7 linked regions of the Homo sapiens genome follow. The protein of the gene in region 7 interacts with the protein of the main gene of each other region in a biochemical or structural test. Each region holds a gene or a part of one and is shown on either strand. Other genes may lie near its edges.

Evidence for each region.
Region 1: the proteins of CLDN10 (region 7) and GRIP2 interact in a test that uses a peptide from one of them, tested with the Homo sapiens proteins (one large-scale study listed by IntAct).
Region 2: the proteins of CLDN10 (region 7) and PARD3B interact in a test that uses a peptide from one of them, tested with the Homo sapiens proteins (one large-scale study listed by IntAct).
Region 3: the proteins of CLDN10 (region 7) and DLG4 interact in a test that uses a peptide from one of them, tested with the Homo sapiens proteins (one large-scale study listed by IntAct).
Region 4: the proteins of CLDN10 (region 7) and TJP1 interact in a test that uses a peptide from one of them, tested with the Homo sapiens proteins (one large-scale study listed by IntAct).
Region 5: the proteins of CLDN10 (region 7) and PDLIM1 interact in a test that uses a peptide from one of them, tested with the Homo sapiens proteins (one large-scale study listed by IntAct).
Region 6: the proteins of CLDN10 (region 7) and FRMPD1 interact in a test that uses a peptide from one of them, tested with the Homo sapiens proteins (one large-scale study listed by IntAct).

Annotation. Positions count from the first base shown.
Region 1 is NC_000003.12:14,491,975-14,495,342, forward strand, and holds part of GRIP2 (glutamate receptor-interacting protein 2), read right to left. Parts: intron 3,016-3,368; coding exon 2,869-3,015; intron 1,853-2,868; coding exon 1,691-1,852; 3' UTR 1-1,690.
Region 2 is NC_000002.12:205,115,475-205,118,974, reverse strand, and holds part of PARD3B (partitioning defective 3 homolog B), read right to left. Parts: intron 55-3,500; coding exon 1-54. UniProt on the Homo sapiens protein: Putative adapter protein involved in asymmetrical cell division and cell polarization processes. May play a role in the formation of epithelial tight junctions.
Region 3 is NC_000017.11:7,207,628-7,211,127, forward strand, and holds part of DLG4 (disks large homolog 4), read right to left. Parts: intron 613-3,500; coding exon 547-612; intron 1-546. UniProt on the Homo sapiens protein: Postsynaptic scaffolding protein that plays a critical role in synaptogenesis and synaptic plasticity by providing a platform for the postsynaptic clustering of crucial synaptic proteins.
Region 4 is NC_000015.10:29,707,469-29,710,968, reverse strand, and holds part of TJP1 (tight junction protein 1), read left to right. Parts: coding exon 1-138; intron 139-1,932; coding exon 1,933-2,410; intron 2,411-3,500. UniProt on the Homo sapiens protein: TJP1, TJP2, and TJP3 are closely related scaffolding proteins that link tight junction (TJ) transmembrane proteins such as claudins, junctional adhesion molecules, and occludin to the actin cytoskeleton.
Region 5 is NC_000010.11:95,270,504-95,274,003, forward strand, and holds part of PDLIM1 (PDZ and LIM domain protein 1), read right to left. Parts: intron 1,282-3,500; coding exon 1,130-1,281; intron 1-1,129. UniProt on the Homo sapiens protein: Cytoskeletal protein that may act as an adapter that brings other proteins (like kinases) to the cytoskeleton. Involved in assembly, disassembly and directioning of stress fibers in fibroblasts.
Region 6 is NC_000009.12:37,702,954-37,706,453, forward strand, and holds part of FRMPD1 (FERM and PDZ domain-containing protein 1), read left to right. Parts: intron 1-3,500. UniProt on the Homo sapiens protein: Stabilizes membrane-bound GPSM1, and thereby promotes its interaction with GNAI1.
Region 7 is NC_000013.11:95,555,720-95,559,219, reverse strand, and holds part of CLDN10 (claudin-10), read right to left. Parts: exon of another isoform or gene 3,296-3,500; intron 1,722-3,295; exon of another isoform or gene 1,642-1,721; coding exon of another isoform or gene 1,596-1,641; intron 1-1,595. UniProt on the Homo sapiens protein: Forms paracellular channels: polymerizes in tight junction strands with cation- and anion-selective channels through the strands, conveying epithelial permeability in a process known as paracellular tight junction permeability.

The sequences.
Region 1 (3,368 bases), on a different chromosome or scaffold from region 7:
GGAGGGCACCAAGGGGCAGAGCCCAGCGAAGTGGAGGGGAGGGGTAAGGGAGGCAGGCCTCCAGGAGACAGCGTGGGCAGGTCCCCAAGGGGGCCTTGGTGGGTCGGCAGAGATGGTTCCGGCCCTGACCAGGAGGCCTGTGTCTGCTCAGACTGTCCACCCGTGATCGTCCAGAGGGGCTGGGGGTCCAACCCAGACAGGGTCACACAGCAAACAGGTAACAGACCCAGGGTGAAAAGAACAGACCTCTTGACTCCTCATCTGTTCCCTCAAATGGAAGAGCACTTTTCTGGCCTCCAGGGACCCCAGGTTGGAGACAGATGGAGGTGGGAGTGGGTGCCCCGTTTTCCTGAGACCCCTGTGAGAACTGGGCCAGGCAAAGCACATCCCCAGCCCTGGCTACACCTGCCCGCCCACTCCATCCCAGGCACCACTCACTAGACCACCAGGGGAGGCCCACACCCTTCTCAAAATGAAGAGGGTCTCTGATTTGTGGACACTGAGGACAATGATTTTAAGGGATGCTGGTGCTTCCAGATTTCAAGTGGGAATAGACTTCTTTGAATAAGCACTTTGGACACCCTCCACTGGGCAAGAGTGTCCCATCTTTTTCTCTGGCCCATTTCTCTCCCATCTCCCTCCCTCTTTCTCCTCTTCCTCCACTGATCTGGCTGTAAAGAGGAGCGCTACCGCCTCACAGGTCCTGCGTCCATCGCTTTTCAATTTTCACTGGATGGCAGGTGAATGGAAGCTCCAGGGTCTTTTGCCCCAAAATGACCCCTCCCACATGGAGGGGCTTGGGCTGAGCGGACGTGCAGATGGGTCAGTGGCCACACGGCCTACAGAAGAAGCAGGAGGGCTGAGAGCCCAAGGCCCATAGAGCCTGCCCAATGGGCCCAGAACCACAGTCTCAAGTCCCAGAAGCTTCAGACTGAGATGCTGAAATCAAAGAATCACCCACTTTCAGAATCAAAGGGCCAGCACTTCCTGGGATCCCAGACGCCCCAACTTAAGAGTCTCATAAGTGGGGACCAGATTCTGGGAATCTCAGAATCTCAGGACTAGCAAGCCCCAAACCCCTATTCTGGAGAAGCGAAGGAGCTGGGCTCCCATCCGAAGCAGCATCCTTCCTGGTGGCCGAGTCTCTAGATGAAGTGGCTCCCCATCAGGAAGCCAACCCCCAAGCGCGTGTGCACGCATCATGGGAATGCCTCATACCCCAATGCATGACTGCGCTGGGGTATCCAGCTCCTGCCTGCTCACCTCCTGTGACCGAGAACTCACTCCTCCTTGCAGCTCATTCCAGCTCCATGGCTTTGCTGGGAGGAAGTGCTCCCTACATCTTCGACCTCTCCAAGGAGGCCCCACAGAGACCTGGGACAGCCCCCAGGCCTCTCTCCTCTCGGCTGAGCAGCCTGTGCCAACCCTTCTTAAGGGAGGCTCCTCTGGGCATCTTGGAGACCCAACTTGGCGAGAGACCCCAGCTGTCACTCCAACTAGGGCAGGACCTCCCTGCCTGGCACCCCAGTCACCACAGACCTGGGGAACAGAGACCAAGCATCATCCCAGGCTCAGAGTCTGCCAGACCAACAGATGAATGAGTGGGTGGCCGCTTCTCCAGCCCAGCTACGTGTCTGGGAGCCAGGATCTGCCTGGGTGGCCCCTTAGGAGTTCGGCCCACATGCTGACTTCAGAGCATCCGGGGACTGCTGGGGCCTGGCGATCGGGGGGCCCGGCTGCTGTGTGCCGTGTGCGGCTTGCGGCTGATGATCAGCTCCAAGACATCACCCGCCTCGGCCAGGAGTGGCACCGCCAGGCAGCAGTCGAAGTCCCGTGTACGGACGTGGTTGACCTGCATGGGGCACAAGCAAGGGAACAGAACCGAGATGTCAGCCCTGCTGCGCTGAAGGGAGCAAGAGGCATGTGATGTCCTAAAGATGGGTCCTGCCCCAGCCTTGACGCAAGCCCTGACATCACCAGCACCACACACAGAGGAACATTCTTCCTCTAACTCTCTCTCAGTCCTTCTGTTAGGTTTCATCAAAGAGAAAGTTCTAGGAAGGGGCAGGTATACCTTTCATACCCCTCTAACTCTTGCTTTTCTCCCTTTCTCACATGAAAGAGCAGACCACACACTCAGAGAGCCTCCTGCCTAGAACTGTGTGATGTGACATTGTCTTCTTTCTATTTTATTTGCATTTTACACCCACTTTCTATTTCAAAGCAAGGGGTGCAAGATTTTCACTCCTAATGGAGACAAAAAGTTTCCTTTCAAAGTCAAATGTAAATTGAAAAAGTGCCATCAATTTAGAGAAAACATGAATTGAGTAAATTTCATATAAATATGGCAAAAAACACACTGAGGGAGCAAAAATAGCCAGGGCATGAGAAGGGGCGGCACGGAGTGCCCAGTACACGATGTCCCACGCTTCCCAGGCTCCCTCACAGTTAGTTAGGAAGGTCACATGAGGGGTTTGGTCCATCGGCTGTGAAGCAAGGTGATGAGTGTTGCTTCTGGGTGAAGGCGGAAAAAATCCACGTGTGACTTTCCAGTCTGTCTCCTCTGCTGTGGAGTCTGAGGAGGCCACGTGTCTCAGAGGGTCAATTCCAAGATGGGCGGATGCTCCATCAGCCCGGGACAAGAAGGCCCCCACCAGCCCACAATGGGCATGGGGTGTAAGAAGAAAGGTCTGTGTGTGCTCAGCCTCTGAGGCTGAGGGTGCTGGGGCCCGCAATGCAACTTTGGCTAACCTGACTCAGACTTGCATTGTCCTGCCCTCTTCACAGGCGATAGATGCAGGCTCTTTCCCCACCCTCAGGCTAGGAAACAATGCCACCCCCACTATGGAGCCCCTGCCCCAGCATTACCTGCAGGACCCTGTCGAAGGGCTGGAGGCCTCCACGGTGGGCTGGCCCATCAGGGCGCACAGTGTGGACATAGACACCTTTTTCCAGGAGGCCATCTGAGACGCTGAAACCAAAGTCATGCCGCATGGGGTCCTTGTGCAGGGTCACCTGGAAGCAGAAGGAGGAGGAGGTTCCTGGAACTCTGACCTTTGCCCCCAGCCTCTCACAGTAGCCCAGGTCCTTTGGTCTGGCATTCAGCGCCTCTGGCCAGCCACACCCCCCAGGCTGCAGCACCCCAGCCTCTTGCCCCTGGGCCTTCAGCCACCCCCGCCACCCCGCTCCCTGCCAACCTCCCTCAGCAGATGCTCCAGGCCACAACACTCAAGTACGACGGAGCCCTTAGGAGTGACTTCCTTTCAGCCCTTTCTCTGTCCTCTGGCTCTATCAGGGAGGAGGCCTGGCCAGGGCACTGTTACCTCCCCTGACCGTCACTCATTCCCATTTACCAAAGAGCTGCTCAG
Region 2 (3,500 bases), on a different chromosome or scaffold from region 7:
TCCCGCTTGGACCTGCTGTTGTCTTCAATGCCTCGGATGAAGAGTCCTAGAATCCTAAATGCAAAATTTAGATTGAAATATAATTACTGAATAATAAATGCTAATTATTTCTCCACTTGCAACTATTCAGAAATACATATTGATTTCTATTTACAAAAGAAATTTTACTTTATATTCAGGCAACTGTTTGTTATTTTAATCCCTAATCCAAAAAAAGCCAAAACTGACTACAAGAGAAAAAGCCCTTCTAGATAAATATGCATAAGTACCAACATCAATCTGCGACTTCATTTCTCATGCTTGCAGTAAACTTATTGAAAGGCTAGTTTACTGGAGTTGACACCAAAGACTTGTGGTTTGGAGAAGGGCATCACACCTGACTATAGTAAGTCTGAGTTAGTGCCAACGTGGCAACGTGATGTTTAGCAGTGGGAGAGCATTAGGATATTCACAGTAACATTTTTGCAGTCTTACTACCTATTCTAAAAATTTGCATTTTAAGAAGTAAAGAAACATTTAAGCTCAGATCATATTACTCAGTTTAGAAGGAAGCTGGATCCCATTTGTTGGTGCTACCAAATCAAGTATGTGTTGGGTGTTTCCTGTGTGATCAGGATGGAGGAGTATGAGACAAAGTCATAGGACCAGGACCAGGTAATTTCACTATACATTTGGGGGACAGCTGAAGTCCAAAAACTAAAGACATTAACAAGCCTAGAGCCTTCAAAGATTTGAGAGCTAACTAGATGGGAGACCAGTGCCACACACAAAGGCTTTGAACAAACAGCCAATGAACTTAATCTGATGGACCTGGAGGGGGGCATCTAGCAGACCCCGCTTCCGAGTAGGGCAGCGACATGATGAAGGCAGGCTTTGGGAAGAGTTGTCCAAAATTTCAACCAAGAAGAGGCTAAATTAGAGAGGATACAAAGAGGCCTCTGGATTTTTGTGGCTGTAGCTTAGAATCAGGAGGGTTGGAAGAGAAGGAAAGAAGAAAGAAAACTATAGCCACTAGAATTAAAATATGTGTGTGTGTATGTGTGTGTGTGTGTGTGTGTACACACATACATACACAATTCTGTTACATATATAAACCAAAACTAAACCAAAAACCGTAAGAAATGGAACTTATACATATTTTCATTATTTCTTATTTGTGGGATTTCCCTTCTCCTCGTGATGTGACAAGGCTTAGCTGTGTCCAGAGTAAGAAAGATAGATATGTCCTGCAAGAGGAGTCTGCTACATTTGGAGAAACTGTGATCTGCACTTTATCAATACTCTTGCTTTTCGACTTTGTCACTCTCTTTTGTATAAAATCCATGTGTGCTATTACAAAATACCTTCACATTAAATTTCAAACCTAAATAAAACATGAGTACATTTTATGTGTAAATAACAGGGTCAGCCATAGAAAAGGGGAATCTACAATGCAAGTATTAGAGAAAGTAGTCCTCCTGTTTGGAGTGGCCACGGAGTTGAACCTCTGTCCCCTTAATGAGCTCCCATCATCTCAAGACCTCAACAGGCATGGCAGTGATATTTGGGTCTCACTTCAAAATGTTAAATGAATACAGCACGCTGCTGCAGGAGAAAGAACAGCAAACAGCCATGCCATCTACTGCAGGGAAGGCTCAGGGTCATAGGCACAAGTGTGCAGTGGGGTCTTGTGGTTCATTTCCTAGTTCCAGTAGGTTAGCAAATTAGTCATATTCTGTGTTACTTTAATCTTGAAACACAGTATTAAAAATGAAACTATTTGACACATTAAAATAATAGATAAAACTTATGGGTTTTTTCCCTAAATTAAACAGCATCCTAAGAGTTCACATTTTGGATTTTTGTTAGGGTGGATTCACAATAACTTGATTCATTAGGAGGCTCACATGTGGTTATAAACGTGTTTATGTAAGTGATATTTTTTTAACAAGCATTCAAGTCTTCCTTTAATTTAATTCAGTACATCATCAGTCATGTAATGTTACTCCCTAGGATTTAATTTCACATTTTGGGAGATGAATTAATTCTTTCGGGCCACTGGGTTGCAATTTAGCTGGCATATTACAGCTGGAGTATGCTATGTGAACCTCACTGATCTAAATAATCTAACTTTCCATGAAAAATTTATTGACAGAATAAGCCCAACTGTAAAACCCATGTGTCAGAGGTAATTTTGGTAAAATGTAAAACTGACTGATTTTATTAGTTTGGTCCCTGGCAACAAACCACTTCTGCCCTCTCTGCTCCGTGGAAGGGATAGATTCCCTCCAGTTTGATTTCATCCAGACCAATACAAGAAGGCTCAGAAAACAATACCTCATTATCCTCTTTGCCCTGAACTGGTGGGCTGTGGTAGCTGTCTCATTTGGGACCAAGACTCGCAGAATTTAAAGATTAATGCTGTCGAGGAGTTATAGGCCGAGACTAACCAGTTAATTTGCATTAATGAACAGTGATAAAGGATGCTGAAATCCACAGCCTCACAGAATTAGAGGGGTAACAATTCTTCTTGCTCTTCTAATTATCATTTAGGCACCAACATCTTCTCCTTGCCCCCTTCCTGTTCTTTTCCCAATGTCACACAGCCTCAGTGACTCTACCAGCTTAGAATTTTGGTTTGAACATCTCTTCTCACAGTCTTTATCAGCCTTCATCCAGTCCTTCTCCTTCTCTCTCCTGTTTAGCTGTCTTCCCTATGAAACTGAGGCATATTATGCATCTGTACTGAAACGAATTAGATTTCATGTTTTTAATTCACAAAAACCACATTGATTTTAAAAATCTGAATAAAATTAAGTTGCATTTTAGTTGCAAGAACTTTGGTGTTTTTTTTATGTTTGCTTTGTTTTTACTGGGAAAGCCAATGGCCCTCAATACAAGCAGCATTCAGCACCCCTCTGCGATGGTATCTAATGAATTCATTGAGGCTTTATCTAGCAGAGCAGCCACTATAATTTACTTATTAGGATGATCTAACTTAGATTAGGTTTCTTATTCAACAACAGGTGTGGCAACATTTTTCTAAAAGAAAAAAAAATAAAAAAATACATTGGAGGCAAAGCCAATTACAGTAATCTTAGTAAAAAAATTAAATGTAAATTCTAATTTAAAATAATGGCACAAACCAATAAATGGAAGGAAATTAAGAGCAAAGTATACCACTATGACCTTAACGAAGCCCCTGTGCTCACACAGTGAAACCATATGGCATTATGAAGTCAGACACTTGTCTGACATGCTCTATACACAGTTGCATCTAGACACATGGGTTGAGTTAAGCGTGCTGTTTCAGCCTGTACTCATTACTCCTTAACTTTTATTGGCTCATGTCTCCACTTCCATAGCATTTTTAATGTTTTTTAATTAAATTTCCTTCCTATAATACTGGTGGATAGCAAAAAATAAATAATAGAACTATTTCACCAAGTTACTGAACAGTTAACCATGAACTTATAATAAAACTACATTTCTGAATCAGGCTTTTTGGTTTTAGCCAAAAT
Region 3 (3,500 bases), on a different chromosome or scaffold from region 7:
TGAAGGAATGAAGAGGTCCCAGGCGTGGGGGCCTCTTGGGGGATGCACACACCTCAACACACACGCATACAGCACACGCACAGGCACACAAACGGCGCACGCACGCACACACACACACAGCACACACACAGGCACGCATGCATGCACACACGCACAGGCACACACACAGCACACGCGCACAGGCACGCGCGCACACACACATTCTTGCTTTAGGCTTTACATCCACTCCCATTGGCCTGGCCTGTTTCTCCTCTGTGGGACCAAGGTGTTTCCAGCCCCACAAACGCCCCCTCCCCCAGACCCCAGGAGCCCAAGCCCCAAACCCCCGCCCCCAGTCCCAGCATCCCCCTCCCCACGGCTCTCTCTCACCCTACCGGCCCTTAGGGATTGCTGCAGCTCCGAGGCTCCGAGGGCCGCACTGGGGAGGGGGCCACCAGGGTCTCCTACCTTGAAGGGGGAGAGGTGGGCGTGGCCCACGACCCCGTGGCCAGCCTCGAGGTGGGACAAGTTCCTCTCCGCCACGTGCACCAGCTCGGGGGCGTTTACCTGGTTGGGGAGGTGGGCCGGGCTGTGCTCCAGAGGGGGCGTGTCTTCATCTTGGTAGCGGTATTTCTGGGGATGGGGACGGAGGTGTCACTGGGGCCAGCCCGGTGCCTCAGGCTCCAGGCTGGCCGCCCTGGCCGCCGCCTCTTCCCCCAGCCAGTGCAGTGCGGAAGGCCCTGGGGCCTGACCAGCTCCTCCCCCTCCCTCTCCTCTAGCCCATTGGCTCCCCTCTCTCCACTCTCCCAACAGCCCCCTCTCCCGCCAGGGCCTCAGCACCTCTCATCAATCCCCAGGTCCCAATCCCATCCCCCAACTCCTACTCCTCACATCCTGGGACACTGGCCTTCTGGTGGGCATAGCCCCTCTGGCATCTGTGTCTTCACCCCTTTCCCCACCACCTTCATCTTCGAGTCCCTCCAGCTTCTCAGAGCTCTAGCCCCGACACTCACATCTCCATTCTCTGCCTCCAGTCCCCAACTTCCTTGCTTCTCTCACCATCTCAGACTCACTCTTGTTCTAGCCTCCCCTCCCCTACCCCTCTGGCTGCTCCTACTCTGCATGGCATCCTCCCCGCGCCCCACCTCCATGGCCTCAGTCTCCCCATTGCAGCCTCTACCCCACAGGTGATTGGCTCTCCTTTACCTTGCACTCCTTAGGCAAGGACTGAAGTCACCCCTTCCACCAGAAGGTACTTGGTATCAGCCCCCGAGACAGGACAAGGCTAAGCCTGTCCAGTTCACTGCCCTTGCTGGTTTCCAAGCAGTCAACAGAGGGGCCCCGGGAGTCTGGCCCTACCCCTGCAACAGCCCACAGCCCAGCCAGCTAATCCGGTTATGCTATAAGGGCATGGGCTGGGGGAGGAAGGGGAAGAACAGAGACAGCAGGGCTCAGGACAGGGGCAAGAATGGGTGCCAGCCTCCCTGGTTGGGGAGGAGGGTAGCATGCTGAGCCTCAGAGTGAATTTCTGGTCTCCCTCTGCTCTTTTGGGGTGAAAGGCCCAACATGACCCCTGACTCCCTGCCCAGTTAATCAGCTGCCATCCCAAGGGCCTCCTGTGCTAGCTTAATAGGGACAACAGTAAAATGAGATTAACTGGGGGCCAGAGAAGGAGGAAAAGGGCAGATGGAGACAGCAGAAGAAGACAGCGTTTCTGCCTGGGTCCTTCCGTGTCCGCCTCTGCCCTCGCCTGCTCCTCTCCTCTGGAACGGGCCTCCACAGAGACTGACCCTCCAAGCTCCAGGTTCAGGAAGGGGAAGGTATCATACGCAGGGATCCCTCAGGAACTGAAGAAGACAGAATGCACCGCCCAGTACACATGGGTAAAAAGAGAAGGCACGGCAATCCCAGCACTTTGGGAGGCTGAGGCAGGCAGACAGCTTGAGCCCAGGAGCTGGAGTTGGAGACCAGCCTGGGCAACACAGTGAAACCCTGTCTACAAAAAATACAAAAATTAGCCAGGCATGGTGGTGCACACCTGTAGTCCCAACTGCTAAGGAGGCTGAGGTGGGAGGATTGCTTGAGCCCAAGAGGTGGAGGCTGCAGTGAGCCATGATCACGCCACCGCACTCCAGCCTGGGCAACAGAGTAAGACCCTGTCTCAAAAAGAGAGAGAGGCCAGGAGCAGTGGCTGATGCTTATAATGCCGAGGTGGGTACATCACCTGAGGTCAGAGACCAGCCTGGCCAACATGGTGAAATCCCATCTCTACTAAAAATACAAAAATTAGCTGGGCGTGGTGGCACATGGCTGTAATCCTAGCTACATGGGAGGCTGAGGCAGGAGAATTGCTTGAACCTGGGAAGCGGAGGTTGCAGTGAGCCGAGATCATGCCACTGCACTCTAGCCTGGCGACAGAGTGAGACTCCATCTCCAAAACAAAAAAGAGAGAGGGCGAGCAGAATTTCCCTCCCAAAAGTTTCTGAGAGGCTGAGAGTGCCCTAATACTTAGAGGGCAGCAGCTGCGAGATCAAATGGGAGGAAGCTTATCAAGGTCAATGGCCAATCCTTGAGTAGGATTCTGAAAATGTTAAAGATGATGAATCAAGGCTGAGAATATAACACAACTTTGGCTGTAGAGTAAGGGTACAGTAAGAGAATGGGAGAAGGGAAGTGGTCCTGTCAGCACGAAAACTCTCAAACCCAGAACACAGAGACAACTCAAATCAAGAAGCACCCTGATACATTTAAAGAGTCTTAAAGAAGGAAAACGGGCTCAGCAAGATTGAGTCTATTCTCTGGGCCACAGACTTGGAGAGAATCCTGAACTCCAGATTTCAATCCGATGGGCACAAAAAGTAGAGAAGGAAAATAGGAGAACACACAAAATAGCCCTCCTCCAAGGCTGAGCTGTCTTGAATAAAGGAGTTCTATGAACCAACAGAGACTGTTCATTCCACATCCTGAGAAGGTGGTCTTCTACCTGGGCAGTGCACAAGCTGAGGGGCAAGCCCCAGAATTGAGACCTGGGGGAAGGGGTGGAAGCCGCTCTCCGCTATCCACTCTTCCTTCACAAGGCCTCCAATTCCCTGCAAGGTAAATTAGGACCAAAGCTCCAAGTTTTGGAGTCTGGGGGAGGGTTTGAGTCCAGTGCCTCTCCATCTTCACTCCACCTCAGAGAGAAAATTCCTGAATCTGAGGAGGAAATGTCAGCGTGCACCCAAAGAAAATGGAAACATGAGGAGGGCCATTTCATCATTTATTCTAGGGAGGAAATGAAGGTAAACTTTTATCTCAGCGAGCCCCCAATACCTCTCCCTGCCCCACCCCCATGGAGGGAGGGTGGTGTCTGGCACTGAAGAAAAGGCTCCTCAGGATTGGGAGGCAACATGGAGAAAATGGGGAACAAGAAATGGGTGCCAGGGTTTCCAGAATGTGGCTGGAAGAGGTTAGGGACTAGGTTCAGTCTCTGGAAATTTTCGACGTACATGTAGGGGGGCGGGGAGAAACGTCGGGAGGGG
Region 4 (3,500 bases), on a different chromosome or scaffold from region 7:
GATCATTTGGCGAGAAACGCTATGAACCCATCCAGGCCACTCCCCCTCCTCCTCCATTGCCCTCGCAGTATGCCCAGCCATCTCAGCCTGTCACCAGCGCGTCTCTCCACATACATTCTAAGGGAGCACATGGTGAAGGTAGGAAGTTCGGAAGTAGACATTTTAACACAGTAATGCTTATGAAGTAAAATTCTGGTGGTTTCTAGGCAAAATGGTTTTTACATTAAAAAATACATGCTTGAAACCTTTGGGCTGGGAACAGTAAAAACTAAGAATTTTGTTAAAAGTATGTCTCCTGTTTTTACAAGACCATTATTTTGGACAAGCCTTTTAGCTAAACAGATTTTAATCTATTTTATGCTAGTCTCTAAATCTTCTGGAAGTAGTGTTTGCCAGTATATGTAAAGATGGTTTGTAAAACCTACTATGTTTTATCTCACACACCCAAATAGAAAAGCCATAATGTTTCATATAAAATGTATCCCATACACCTTGACTTTTGCATTTACATACCAGGTAGATCACATATAGCTCCAGATTATTCATCTTAAGAGCTTTGTAACATTTTACCCTCAGCATATAACACAAAGTGGTTATCTCTTCTGCTGTGGACAGGCATTTTCCTAGCACAGACTTCTCTTATTATTCCCTTAGGAGGCACCTCCTTGGGCTTGTGAGTCTTCAAGCAGATGTGTTATAGTTCTGGATTGAGGCTATCTTTTATTAAGATTTTTTTTCACACATGCCCATGTTTACAGATAAAGACAGTTTTAATTCTTACTTTCCAGTCCTTATGCCTTTTCTCTTTTTTTTTTTCCTCTTTTTGAGACGAAGCCTTGCTCTCGCCCAGGCTACAGTGCAGTGGCGCAGTCTCAGCTCACTGCAACCTCTGCCTCTCGGGTTCAGGTGATTCTCCTGCCTCAGCCTCCTGAGTAGCTGGGACTATAGGCGCACACCACCACGCCCGGCTAATTTTTGTATTTTTTGTAGAGACAGGGTTTCATCATGTTAGCCAGGCTGGTCACGAACTCCTGACCTCAGGTGATCCGCCCACCTCGGCCTCTCAAGAGTGCTGGGATTACAGGCATGAGCCACCGCACCTAGCCTTCTTTCTTTTCTTGCTGATTGCACTGGCCAGGACCTCCAATAAACTCTGAAATGTAAGTGGTGAAATTGGACCTCTTTTGCTAGTTCCTGATTTTAAGGAGGAAGGACCTCATGTTTTATCCTTTAGAATGTTAGCTCTAGGATTTTCGTAGATGTCCTTTATCATGTTTAAGACATTCCCTATATTCAGAGTTTGCTGAAAGCAGTCAGATGTTTTTCCTGCATGTATTAAGATGACCATATGATTTTTCTTCTCGTACTGTGGAAAATTATATTACTATATTCATGAGGTATTTGGATTAATAATTCTCCTGTCTTGTAGTGTCCTTAATTATTTCACAGAGTTCAGTTGGTACTGTGTTACACTGTGGCTGGCAGTGCATAAAAAATCCTGTGGTTCCACTTTTTAACCAATGTTTGGCATCATCAGACTTTTCGGTTTTTCCATTCTAGTGGGTGTGAAATAGTATTTAATGCTTTTTGTTGGTTTTGTTTTACATTTTTCTAATTAATAGTGAGTATCCTTATTATATGATTATTGGGCATTCTAGTTTTCACAAAGACTAGTGCCAATCTTTGGAGGCCAGGAATCTTAGCAGCTGGACCCTGACTCCAGGGCAGCAGGGTATATATATTCATGGCACCACCTGTCCATGCTGCCCTCATCCCTCAGCATCACACCTAGCCTCCAGGGCTCAAGAGTCAGGCTCTGGCTGTGCGACCCACATTTGGGCCTCGACTCCAGCACCAGGACAAGTTAAGCTGGGACAGGGCTATTATAACTTTTTTCAGAAAGTTATTTAAATGCTTACGTTTGTTTTTCAGGTAATTCAGTGTCATTGGATTTTCAGAATTCCTTAGTGTCCAAACCAGACCCACCTCCATCTCAGAATAAGCCAGCAACTTTCAGACCACCAAACCGAGAAGATACTGCTCAGGCAGCTTTCTATCCCCAGAAAAGTTTTCCAGATAAAGCCCCAGTTAATGGAACTGAACAGACTCAGAAAACAGTCACTCCAGCATACAATCGATTCACACCAAAACCATATACAAGTTCTGCCCGACCATTTGAACGCAAGTTTGAAAGTCCTAAATTCAATCACAATCTTCTGCCAAGTGAAACTGCACATAAACCTGACTTGTCTTCAAAAACTCCCACTTCTCCAAAAACTCTTGTGAAATCGCACAGTTTGGCACAGCCTCCTGAGTTTGACAGTGGAGTTGAAACTTTCTCTATCCATGCAGAGAAGCCTAAATATCAAATAAATAATATCAGCACAGTGCCTAAAGCTATTCCTGTGAGGTAAGACTTATGCCTTTGCTCAAAGCATTGGCCCTGTGATTTTTCTCATGTGAGTTTGTTGTAGTTTATTTGACTTGGGACTTTAAAGTGATCTTTTTAACTCAACCTTTAAACTGAAGAGTGTTGTTGCAATGAATGCTGTTACATAGAAGGTCCTCCAGGAGGTACAAGATGTTGGTAAAATAATAAAGCTAACAGTCGTGTATGGTTGGTAGGTATTGTCATCATCCCTGTTTTACTAAGAACTGAGGTTGAGTGACAGTAAGCAGTTTGCCCAGGGTCACAGCTAGAGTGAGGTGAGCCTCAATTTAGCTGCTGGTCATCCGACCTCTGAGCCCATGCTTTTTTTTTTTTTTTTTTTTGAGACAAGAGTCTCCCTCTGTCGCCCAGGCTGGAGTGCAGTGGTGCGATCTTGGTTCACTGCAACCTCCACCCCCTGGGTTCAGGCAATTCTCCTGCCTCAGCCTCCTAAGTAGCTGGGACTACAGGTGTGTGCCACCACGCCTGGCTAAATTTTTTGTATTTTTAGTAGAGGTTTTCACCATGTTGGCCAGACTGGTTTTGAACTTCTGATCTCAAGTGATCCATCCGCCTCCACCTCCCAAAGTGTTAGGATTACAGGCGTGAGCCACTGCACCCAGCCAGGAGCCCATACTCTTAACCAGCCATGACCTTTTGTAACCTCCTGACCTACTGGTAAGGTGCATGTGGAGGACATCTAAAAACATTAAGTATCTATGTTCCTCATTCATTATTTGTTCCACAATGATGCTAAGAAGAAAAATAGAATAACCTCTGACTGTTTAAAGAGCAGCAGTTAGTGAGATGGCTGAGCAAATGAGACAAAGTGAGCCCACCTGGAGCCTCCCTGCAGCTCCTCTTTCCTGTCTTTCATTCCACGGCGATTGACCAGATGGATTCTGGCCATACATAAAAGCTCATCTCAGCCTCCTACAGCCAGTTCCATTTTCACGCCACCATAAAGCAGAAGCACTTGCAGGCAGGGAGAACCAAAGGTCAGGATGGCCACCTGAGTCTGCTTTCCAAGAGAAAGGATGGTTATGGCGGTCACTGCCTTCCTAGCTCTGCA
Region 5 (3,500 bases), on a different chromosome or scaffold from region 7:
CTTCCGAAATCCTGCCTTTGCGGGACCCCTTCCAAGGCTAAATGAAAGAAGAATGGAAATTCTACCCTAATTACAGCTCCCAAGGTGCTACCCTCATTCATTCTTTTATCCCCAGCGCTCCTTGCTTGTCATGTACCTAAAGTTACACTCAGTACTCTGCTGCTAATGTGTTCAAGTTTTTCTCTGTTATTGCAATCTCCTGGCATGGTACCCACTGCTCAGCACAATGCAGTAGCAGCAGCATCCTAAGGACATTTTTTTTTTTGAGATGGAGTTTCGCTCTGTCGCCCAGGCTGGAGTGCAGTGACGCCATCTCAGCTCACTGCAAACTCTGCCTCCTGGGTTCAAGTGATTCTCCTGCCTCGGCCTCCCGAGTAGCTGGAACTACAGGTGCACGCTACCACACCTGGCTAATTTTTTAATTTTTAGTGGAGATAGGGTTTCACCATGTTGGCCAGGCTGGTCTCAAACTCCAGACCTCAAGTGATTTGTCTGCCTCGGCCTCCCAAAGTGCTGGGATTACAAAGAGAGCCACCGCACCTGGCCAGGACATTTTACTTACTCAAAATTTTGGTTGAGTTGGATCAAGTGAAAATGCAAGTATCTTACTGAAAGAAGCCCACATCATAAGCACCGTGAAAATCAGAGGGGGGCTGGGCACGGTGGCTCACACCTGTAATCCTAGCACTTTGGGAGGCCAAGGCAGGTGGATCACCTGAGGTCAGGAGTTCGAGGCCAGCCTGGCCAACATGGTGAAACCCCATCTCTACTAAAAATACAAAAATTTGCTGGGTGTGGTGGTGCACATCTGTAATCCCAGCTACTCAGGAGGCTAAGGCAGGAGAGTCACTTGAACCCGGGAGGCAGAGGTTGCAGTGAGCTGAGATTGCACCACTGCACTCCAGCCTGGGCAACAGAGTGAGACTCCGTCTCAAAAAAAAAAAAAAAAAAAATAGAGGGGAAATAAGCAATCTGAAGTTCAAATTCCACAGACCTTTTGGCATGCCTATAGTATATACATGGCACTGAGCTAGGAGGTCTGGGGGATTCTGAGATAGGGAAGGCAGTCCCTGCCCACAAACAGCTTCTAGTCAATCAGAAATGAACAAAACGTTTCCATAGGCTTCACCTGGCTACAGTGAGAGTCAAGTTGTCTGTGCAGCCTTTGATTCTGTTCTGAGCTTCCAAGTGTGTCATATTGCTAGTATTTTCCCCATCAATGGCTGTGATTACATCTCCAATACATAAATTAGCTAGAGCCGCCTTGCTTCCAGGAGTGACCTAGAAAAAAAGGGGAAAGCAGGCTAGTTACTATTTGTCTCCAAACCACTAAGTTACCACCAAGTTAAGTATTCACTGATATGGAGCAAAGCCCTGAAAAAGAAAAGAGGGCTGAAATCATAGCTTAAATAATAACAATCATTTATATTATCATTGACAAAGAGGGCTTTTCTAATATGATCTCATTGTATCCCTATAGCAACCTTATGAGAAAGGAGGACAAATAGCAGTCCCCATTTCCAAGACCAGGATCTGAGGCTTAGAAAGACCTATGACTTACCCAGGATCACCCAACTAGTATATTATTATATTACTGGTCCTCCAACTAGTGTATTACTGAGCCAGGAAACAAACCCCGAACAGATCTGATGTCCTTCCCACTGAACCACGTTTGCTTCCTTAAAATTAGTTAACAATTACATTTAAAAAAACACACACACACACATTTAGAGAACATTATATACTATAATACCCTATTTCTTTAAAAATCTTAATAATGTTATATATACAAAAGAAAGTGGAAACACTGCACACTAAATTGTTCACAGTTATACAGTTTTGCAATGTTTTTTACAATAATATTGAATTACTTTTTAATTTAAAAAATTGTTGACCAGGCATGGTGGCTCATGCCTGTAATCCCAGCACTTTGGGAGGCCAAGGCAGGCGGATCACCTGAGGCCACGAGTTTGAGACCAGCCTGGCCAGCATGGTGAAACCCTGTCTCTAACAAAAATACAAAAAAATTAGCCGGGTGTGATCTCAGCTATTCAGGAGGCTGAGGCAGGAGGATCACTTGAACCCAGAAGGTGGAGGTTGCAGTGAGCCAAGATCATGCCTCTGTACTCCAGCCTGGGCAACAGAGTGAGATTTCGTCTCAAAAAATAATAATAATAATAAAATAAAAATTTAAAAAAAAATTGTTAAAAGCAATCAAGGATATCCTAAAGTATGGTAGTATAGGTTTATACTGGTTTAATCTCCCAAAATGACTAGGGTCATTCCCTATAGACGGCTGGTTTTCTGCAGACTGATGCTTCTAAAACCAGTGGTTCCAAATTGACAGATCATTGATGCTTGGGGGAAGCCAATCAATTACTGCAATAGGTCCTTAAATTCACCTGCCTACAGAGCAATACATGCGGACTCAATACATATCACATCTCCTACACTGATGTACAACCATTTTTCAAGTGAATACAGATGCTATTAGAATGAACAAGATCCAAACTCATTTTGAAATAGTACTCACCTCAGAGTACTATCTCTAACCAAGGTATCTGGTTAGATTTTCTAAACTAAGGTATACTAAAAATATTACTGTCATCATCCCAGGGTAAGTTCACAACTTTTTTTTTCCACATTACAAGACCTTCCTGGATGGGAATTCCAAGTCCGCAGGATCAAGGTGGCAGTAACACCCCCAGGCTCCCAGTGCCCACAGGGCTCTGGCCACCCTTTGGAGAAGGCCCTTGACTCTCGGGATCCAGTTGAGGAAGATCTTATGAACACCTGGGTGTCTCCTTATGGCTGAACCACAGGTAACAGGTTCTTCAAGGCACCAAACCAGGACACACAAGTTGGGTCCTAAACCTCAGTATCTGATGCAGTTTTCAGCAGCTACAGTTTCCGATTAGCCCTCAGCGCAGCTAGTGTGGTGCCGCTATTATGGTGCATTCCCCATCAGCACCCTGACCCCAAAAAATGAGGACAAGTTGATCCTTGAGGTCCCTTCTGGCCCGCACATGCTATGACTTTATCAGGCAAAACTCTCCTGGAATGTGGCAGGATGTGGAAACCAGTACCGAGATCCTGACCTCCTAACCTTCCTTTCTGGCTCTCCCATCATTTGTTTACCAGAGATCTGGGTTTTAGGAAACGAAAGCAGCCTCCTGATTCAAGGTTCAGATCGTCCCCTCATCCAGCCACTGGGACAGGACTTTTTATCCAGGCAAGCACAGGCCGCTCTCATTTCAGTCAACAATGAGAGTTAGCTTCTGAGTCATCCAGTGCATGCAATAAAAAAAAATTCCTCCGTTTTCTGACCTGTTGTCCTGAGAAGACTGATCTGGTGCATCTTCATACACACTTCACTGTTACTAAAGGACAACGCAGGCTCAGTTTTTAAACGGCTCTAAGCATCATTTTATTTGGGATTGGCAAGCGTTCTTGACTGACAAACTCTAACTCCAAGGAGAGCAGCCTGAATCAAGGAGAAT
Region 6 (3,500 bases), on a different chromosome or scaffold from region 7:
GCTGAGATTGATATTTTTGAATACTTAAGAGCCAGGGTTTATTGAACTCATACTCTGTTCTAGAACTTTACTAGGCATGGGAGACATGGAGATGAATGGGTACCACCCTTGTCTTCTAGGAACTCATGGTCCAGGATAAATAATATGATATTTTTTCCTTTGTGGTCATCAGTTCAAGGAATACCGGTCAAAATGGTAACAGAAGATCAAATTTAAAATTTAAATTCATGGTACAGGTTCACCAATGATTTCCTAGAGAGATTGAATTGCCAGTTTGTATTGTCATTCTTTAATCTCAGGACTAGTACCTGTTGGGCCTTATTATTTTTATTCATATTTGGTATGACACATAATAGTACTCCATAGCCCTTTCAGTTGTGCTTCTTTGATAAGGTTGTACATTTTCTGTGTTAATTTCCAGCTTGCTTTCTTCATGTGAGAGTTGTCAATTCACTTGCTTTGAGCATGTGAAATGTGGGTATCTACTATGTGTATTTATGCCCATTCTTCATATATTTGTATTATAAGCTTTCCCCACTTCAGGATTTTTTTAAATTTACTTATTTTCAGCTGCTTTATTGATAGATAATTTACATACCATACAATTCCCCCATTTGAAGTGTACAATTCAATGGTTCTTAGTGTATTCACAGATCTGCAACTGTCACAAGTCCATTTTGGAAGGTTTTCATCCCCCACAAAGGAAACCTATACCTATTAGCAGTGACTCCCAAACCTCCCAAACCTCCCTCCCTGAAGCCTTGGACAACCCCTAATCTACTTTCTGTCTCTATAGATTAGTCTGTTCTAGATATTTCATGTTAATGGAATCATACAATATGTGGTCATTTGTGACTGGCTTTCACTTAGCCAGATTCATCCATGTTTCATTCCTTTTTATTGCCAAATATTCTGTTCTGGAATACGGTATTTTATTTATCCATGTCATTAGTTGATGGACATTCGAGTTGTTTCCACTTTTGGACATTTACAGAAAATGCTGCTATAAATATTCATGTGCAAGTTTTTGTGTAGACATTTATTTTCATTTCTCTCCGGTACATACCCAGGAGTGCAATTGCTGGATCATGTTGTACACCATGTTTAGTCTTTTAAGAAACTTCCAGACACTTAAAGGACTTTCTAGAATTTCTATTCAGTTTCATTGGTGAAAGCCACACTATGCAGTTTTGATTATTGCCTTTGTCTGAAAGGAGTGCTTACTTTTCAACTGTAACTTTTCTGAAATCTAAGTATTTCTGATAGAAATTTAGAGTTCAAATTGATACGCGCTGTAAGTGTAAAATAGACCCTGGATTTTGAAGACTTAATATGAAAGAATGCAAAATCTCTCATCAATAATTTTTTGTATTAACTACGAGTTGAAATGATACTATTTTGGATATATTGAGTTAAATAAAATATATGTTATTAAAATTTATTTCACTTATTTTTTTCCTGTTTTTATGTAGCTATTAGAAAACTTAAATTTACGTATGCGGTGTGTATATTTCATTTGGACCGCACTGCTCTAGAAGCAGTGCTAGTGTGCCTATTGAAGAAAGTAGCCCCAATTTGAAACCTGCTTCCCAGCTGTATGACTTTAAGCAAGTTAAAATCTCTCAGAGCAAGATTTAGTCTTTTCACCTATAAAACAGGAATAATAATTGTACCCACCTCAAAAGTTTGAGGGTTGAGTGAGATATATATATATATATAATGTTAAATCACTCCCTAAAATATAGTTAGTATTCATAAATGTTATTAATTATTATTGTCGTTATTGCTGTGATTACCATCAATTTGTCAAGTTGTTTTTTAATCTGGAAGAATTTTTTATTTATATTACATTAAATCTCTATTTAATTTAGAACTTTTTTTTTTTTTGATACTTAGTGTTTCCATCCAGGAACCCAGCATAACTTTAACCCAATTATTGTGTTTTCCTTTATTGCTTTAAGGAAAGTTATATTATTTTCTTTAAATAAATCCTTCTTCCCCTGAATTACATTAGTACACATCACTAGTTTTGTTACTTGAATCCTTTCTTGGCATTTTCTAGATATTTAGCATTCACTCATTAAGAATGCCTAACACCGAATGTACATTCAGCTAATCTGCTTTTAATGAATTGTTTGATCCTTTTTGTGGCTGTGTTTTGTGTTTTTATCCTGCATCTCCACTAAACTTATCTTCTGGCACTAAAAATTTTCTTTGTTCATCATTTTCTGTGTGAATGTCATCTGCTAAAAAACAAAAAAAAAATAATAAGGTGGTACTTTTCCATTCCTGTGCTCATTATTCCTCTTGTCATTTTTCCTTCCCTGATAACTATTATTAGCATTTATCCTACTACATTAAATAAAACACCAAATTGTTTGTTTGTTTGTTTTTGAGATAGTCTCGCTCTGTCACCCAGGCTGGAGAGCAGTGGCATGATCTCAGCTCACTGCAACCTCAGCCTCTTGAGTAGCTGGTACCACAGGTGTACACCACCAAGTCCTGCTATTTTTTTGTATTTTTAATAGAGACAGGGTATTGCCATGTTGCCCAGGCTGGTCTTGAGCTCTGGGACTCAAGTGATTAGCTAGCCTCAGCTTCCCTAAGTGCTGGGATTACAGGCATGAGGCACTGCACCTGTAATGTCAAATGTTGATTTTTGACTTTTAGTATAGAGTGTTATTTATTGCATTTAGAAAAACCTTTTTATAGCTCTAAATGTTTTTTACAAAATCAGGAATAGGCTGGGTGCGGTGGCTCCTGCCTGTAATCCCAGCACTTTGGGTGGCTGAGAGGCAGATCACTTGAGCTCAGAAGATTGAGACCAGCCTGGACAACATGGAGAAACCCCATCCCTACTAAAAATACAAAAAATTAACCGGGTGTGGTAGCACGAGCCTGTAGTCCCAGCTACTCAAGAGGCTGAGGCATGAGAACCGCTTGAACCAGTGAGCTGAGATCATGCCACTGCACTCTAGCCTGAGTGACAGAGTAAAACCCTCCCTCAAAATAAATAAATAAATAAATAAATAAATAAATAAATAAATAAAAGATTGAAAAAAAATCAGGAAGAGCTATGGGCTTTATTTAGTGTGAATTTTCAGTTTTCTGTTTCTTCCCTCTCATTAGGTCTCTCTGCTGCTCCAGCTCAGTATTACCTGCATGCTGGCCTAGAAGAAAGACTCCCTCTGCTTCTAGGTTGTGTGGGCTGGGTCATCTATTCATACAGATCCTAAATTTGCTCTAAGTCAGGGCCTGGGGGGGATCCTTGGTGGATAGTGTACACGAGACTTTGGACTTGTGCTTGTCACTTACATTTTGGCTCTGTGAGACAGTTTTTCATATTTCCGGATCCTTGTTGAAACTGGAGATCATTATAAATGAGAGGGAGATGATTTTCAGATAAGTGAGGGCCTATTGCATTAGGCAGGGTTCCTGAAAGTGTTTGGTAAATGGATGAGAATAAATGATAGACCTTAACCGCAGAGTCCCAAGACAGC
Region 7 (3,500 bases):
TTTCAGCCTGAAACAATGCCATATTTCGATCTAAAATAGTGATAGTAGCACATACCGGGTGTAAGTAAGTATCTGCTAAGCAAATAAACATATATACCTACATCAGGTTTACGTTTGGAATTAAACTTTTTAACTGGAAAAAACCTCTTATGTGTCAATATATGATAAGTCATTTATTATTGGTGTTCAAGCAGAGCCATGATAAATAATAATTCCGAGACCATGATAATCATGAATTTAGGGAGTACATACTAGTGGCCTCCAGTTCAGTTTCTTTTTTTCTTTTCTTTTTTTAACACAGGATCTCACTTTTGCCACCCAGGCTGGAGGGAAGTGGCATAATCATAGCTCACTGCAGCCTCAAATTCCTGGGTTCAAGAGATCCTCCTGCCTTAGCCTTCTGAGTAGCTGAAACCATAGGCGCTTGCCCCCACCTATGGCTAATTTTTAAATTTTTATAGAGACAGTGTCTCGCTGTAATGCCCAGATTAGTCTCGAATTCCTGGCCTCAAGCGATCCTCTTGCCTTGGCCTCCCAAAATGCTGGGCTTAAAGGCATGAGCCACTGCACCTGGCCCCAGTCTGTGTTTCTTTGGAAAAGAATGAAATTGAAGTTTTAATCCTATTCCTTGGACCCATTTTTGAAGAGCAAACAGGAGCTGCTCTACTTAATTGTAAACACTTTAGACTCCCACAAATGCAGACTGCAAGGACAGTGACCTTCCATTGTGTAGTGTGAAATATTTCCATACAGAAAACAATTTCACTAACACCGTGGCTATCAAAAACAGCAAAACAAACTTATTTTTAGCAAAACAGGATAATGAAGGCTTCTTTCATAGCAATCATTGTGCTGCAGGGCTATCTGGGTCTCCGCTGCCAAATGCTGAACCAGCTGTATTTTAAACTTCAGTCCTCGAGCTCCCCAGCCAGAGCCCAGACAGCAGGTAGAGGCAAGACAGAGAGGGGAAGCCTGTCAGTCCCTTGCAAGTTTGAAGAGAGCCTGTGAGGATAACCCAAACTGGTTCATCACTTGCCACCAGGGCTACTCGGACAGTGTGGTTTCGCTCTTTTTGTGAAATTCATTTTAATCTATGGTTTTGAGGTTTTATAGCTGACTCTGACTGCAGTCATTAAATAAACAAAAAAATGGGGGACTCATCCATTTATATATACTCCCAGAAAACATTAGCATGTACCCTAATTTGCATTGCCTTTAGTTACTTCCATGCTTTGTTAACAGAAAGTGCAAGTTGTCGGGAATTTACCAAAGGTTAAATTCTACAATCTGGTCATTTAGAACGCGGAATGCATTTCCCAGATGATAAACAGTGGGTAGAATCCCAGGCCAACCCATTCGATTCTTAATACAACAGGGAAAATAACAGTAGTCTTTGAACTTTATGTAATCACCACTGATAACATTTTTCCCGAGTTTCTCACTCTGAGATGCCCCGTCCCAGCCCTGGTATTGGCAGCAGGACCCACTTTGGTCTCTTGACACAAGCATGAGAGGAGAAGTGGGCAGGGCAGATTCTGATCTGGTCAGGTCCTTCTTTTGTGCCAACCAGAACCCGGATTTGGAAAATGAGGTACCTTTCTCCAGCATGAACAGCAGCCATAACTTGTTAATTTTGCGCATGCACAAAGAAGGCAATTTACAAGGACGATCATTGGCCAGATTTTCTGAAATGGAGAGCAAAGAGCAGGGGATAAACTCCCCTGCCAGCCATAAATGTAATGGAGTTGCTCGTAAGCCTGAGATTTGTAAATTCTCAGTGTTCTAAGGCTACCAGTCCTTACAACACCCACAGATTGGAGCCAAGATGATTCCAACAAACCCTTTCAGAGTTCATCTTTTGCAAAGCAGACCTCTACAGCCTTGCTTTCTAACAGTTCCTGAGGGCAAAACTTACAAGTAACACCACCAGGAGAAGTGTTAGTAAAAACCTAGTCAAGGAGGCCATTATTTTTGACAGGTCTAATTTACTGACACTGTTAATAGCTAATTAACACATTAAGGTGCTGAGGCATGAACATATTTATTTAGAAGTTCTCTGAAGTATAATTTATAGTTAGTTCTCCTGGGAGAAATGGCAAGCATTCCCACTAGCAAAAATAGATGGCATACACTAAAAACAAGCTGGCTGAAAATCATACTCAGCTGAAGTTCAAGTGGTACTTTGAAAGGAGTATGGGTTAACAATAAACAGAAATCACAAGCTCATTCAGCTGTGAAATTTTCAAATAGTAAAATACAGTGACTTTAAATTAATGAACTCTGTTGGAGGAAAGCTTCAAGGTGTTCCTTAAAAGTTAAGTGTTTTCCAAATTATGTGTACTTTATTTTCAATTGCAAATCAGCAAAAAACGAAAACATCCACTTGGTGGAGACAATTCGCTAATAGCACCTGTGCTAGTTGATGGATTTAGGGGGGAAAAAAGAATGTGCTTTTCTTTTCCTGGTAGCTTTGTGTACTTCTGCAAATCCTTTGAGAGAACAGTGGTATGGGGAGGGCAGGAACTCTGAGTTTCACCTCTGGTGCTTCTATTTACCCAAGGTATGTACTTGGTTATAGGACCTAATCTCTTTGAGGCTCAGTTCTCTCATCTGTAAAACAGGGATGGCAGCACCTCCTTCACAGGATGAATAATATGGATGTCTGCTGAGCAGTAAGAAAGTCATCAAAGCATCCCGTCATATTATAATACTACAATGGATTCTAAGCAGAAATTAGAGCTGGGTTCTTAATATGGCATAACGTTAAATCTAGACATATAGCTTTGCTAGGCCTCATTTTTCTTATAAGGAAAACAAGTGGCAATGATACCCCTAGGGGAGGGGAATCAGAGATTTCTTTATATAAGAAATTTAGGGCTGGGCGCATGGCTCATGCCTGTAATCCCAGCACTTTGAGAGGCAGAGGCGGGCAGATCACTTGAGGTCAGGAGTTCAAGACCAGCCTGGCCAACATGGTGAAACCCTGTCTCTACTAAAAATACAAAAATCAGCCAGGTGTGGCAGTGGGTGCCTGTAATCCCAGCTACTCAGGAGGCTGAGGCAGGAGAATTGCTTGAACCCGGGAGGTGGAAGTTGCAGTGAGCAGAGATCATGCCATGGCACTCTGTCCTGGGGGACAGAGTGAAACTTTGTCTCAAAAAAAAAAAGAAAAGAAATTCAGAATAATGACCTCGTCGTTTGACTCCAAGAGTTCTTCTACCTAACACAAGATAGGCAAGAGTCACGAGCCTTCTCTCTCCCTTCCTGGATTCTCTTCCCAATCTAGAGCTCATACCTGGGTTTAAGGGGAGGGCTGTTCCACTCAGGCCACCATGGCCACTTTCTCCAAAGGCAATGTCAGGACCAGCACCCACCAGATGTGGCTGACCTGGGAATGCAAGGTAGAGGACAAACAGAGGGCCCCTACCCTGGAAGCTTCCACTTGCAGGTGGGGGAATCAACTCCCCTCCACAGGAAAACACAGTTGCATGATTTAACCC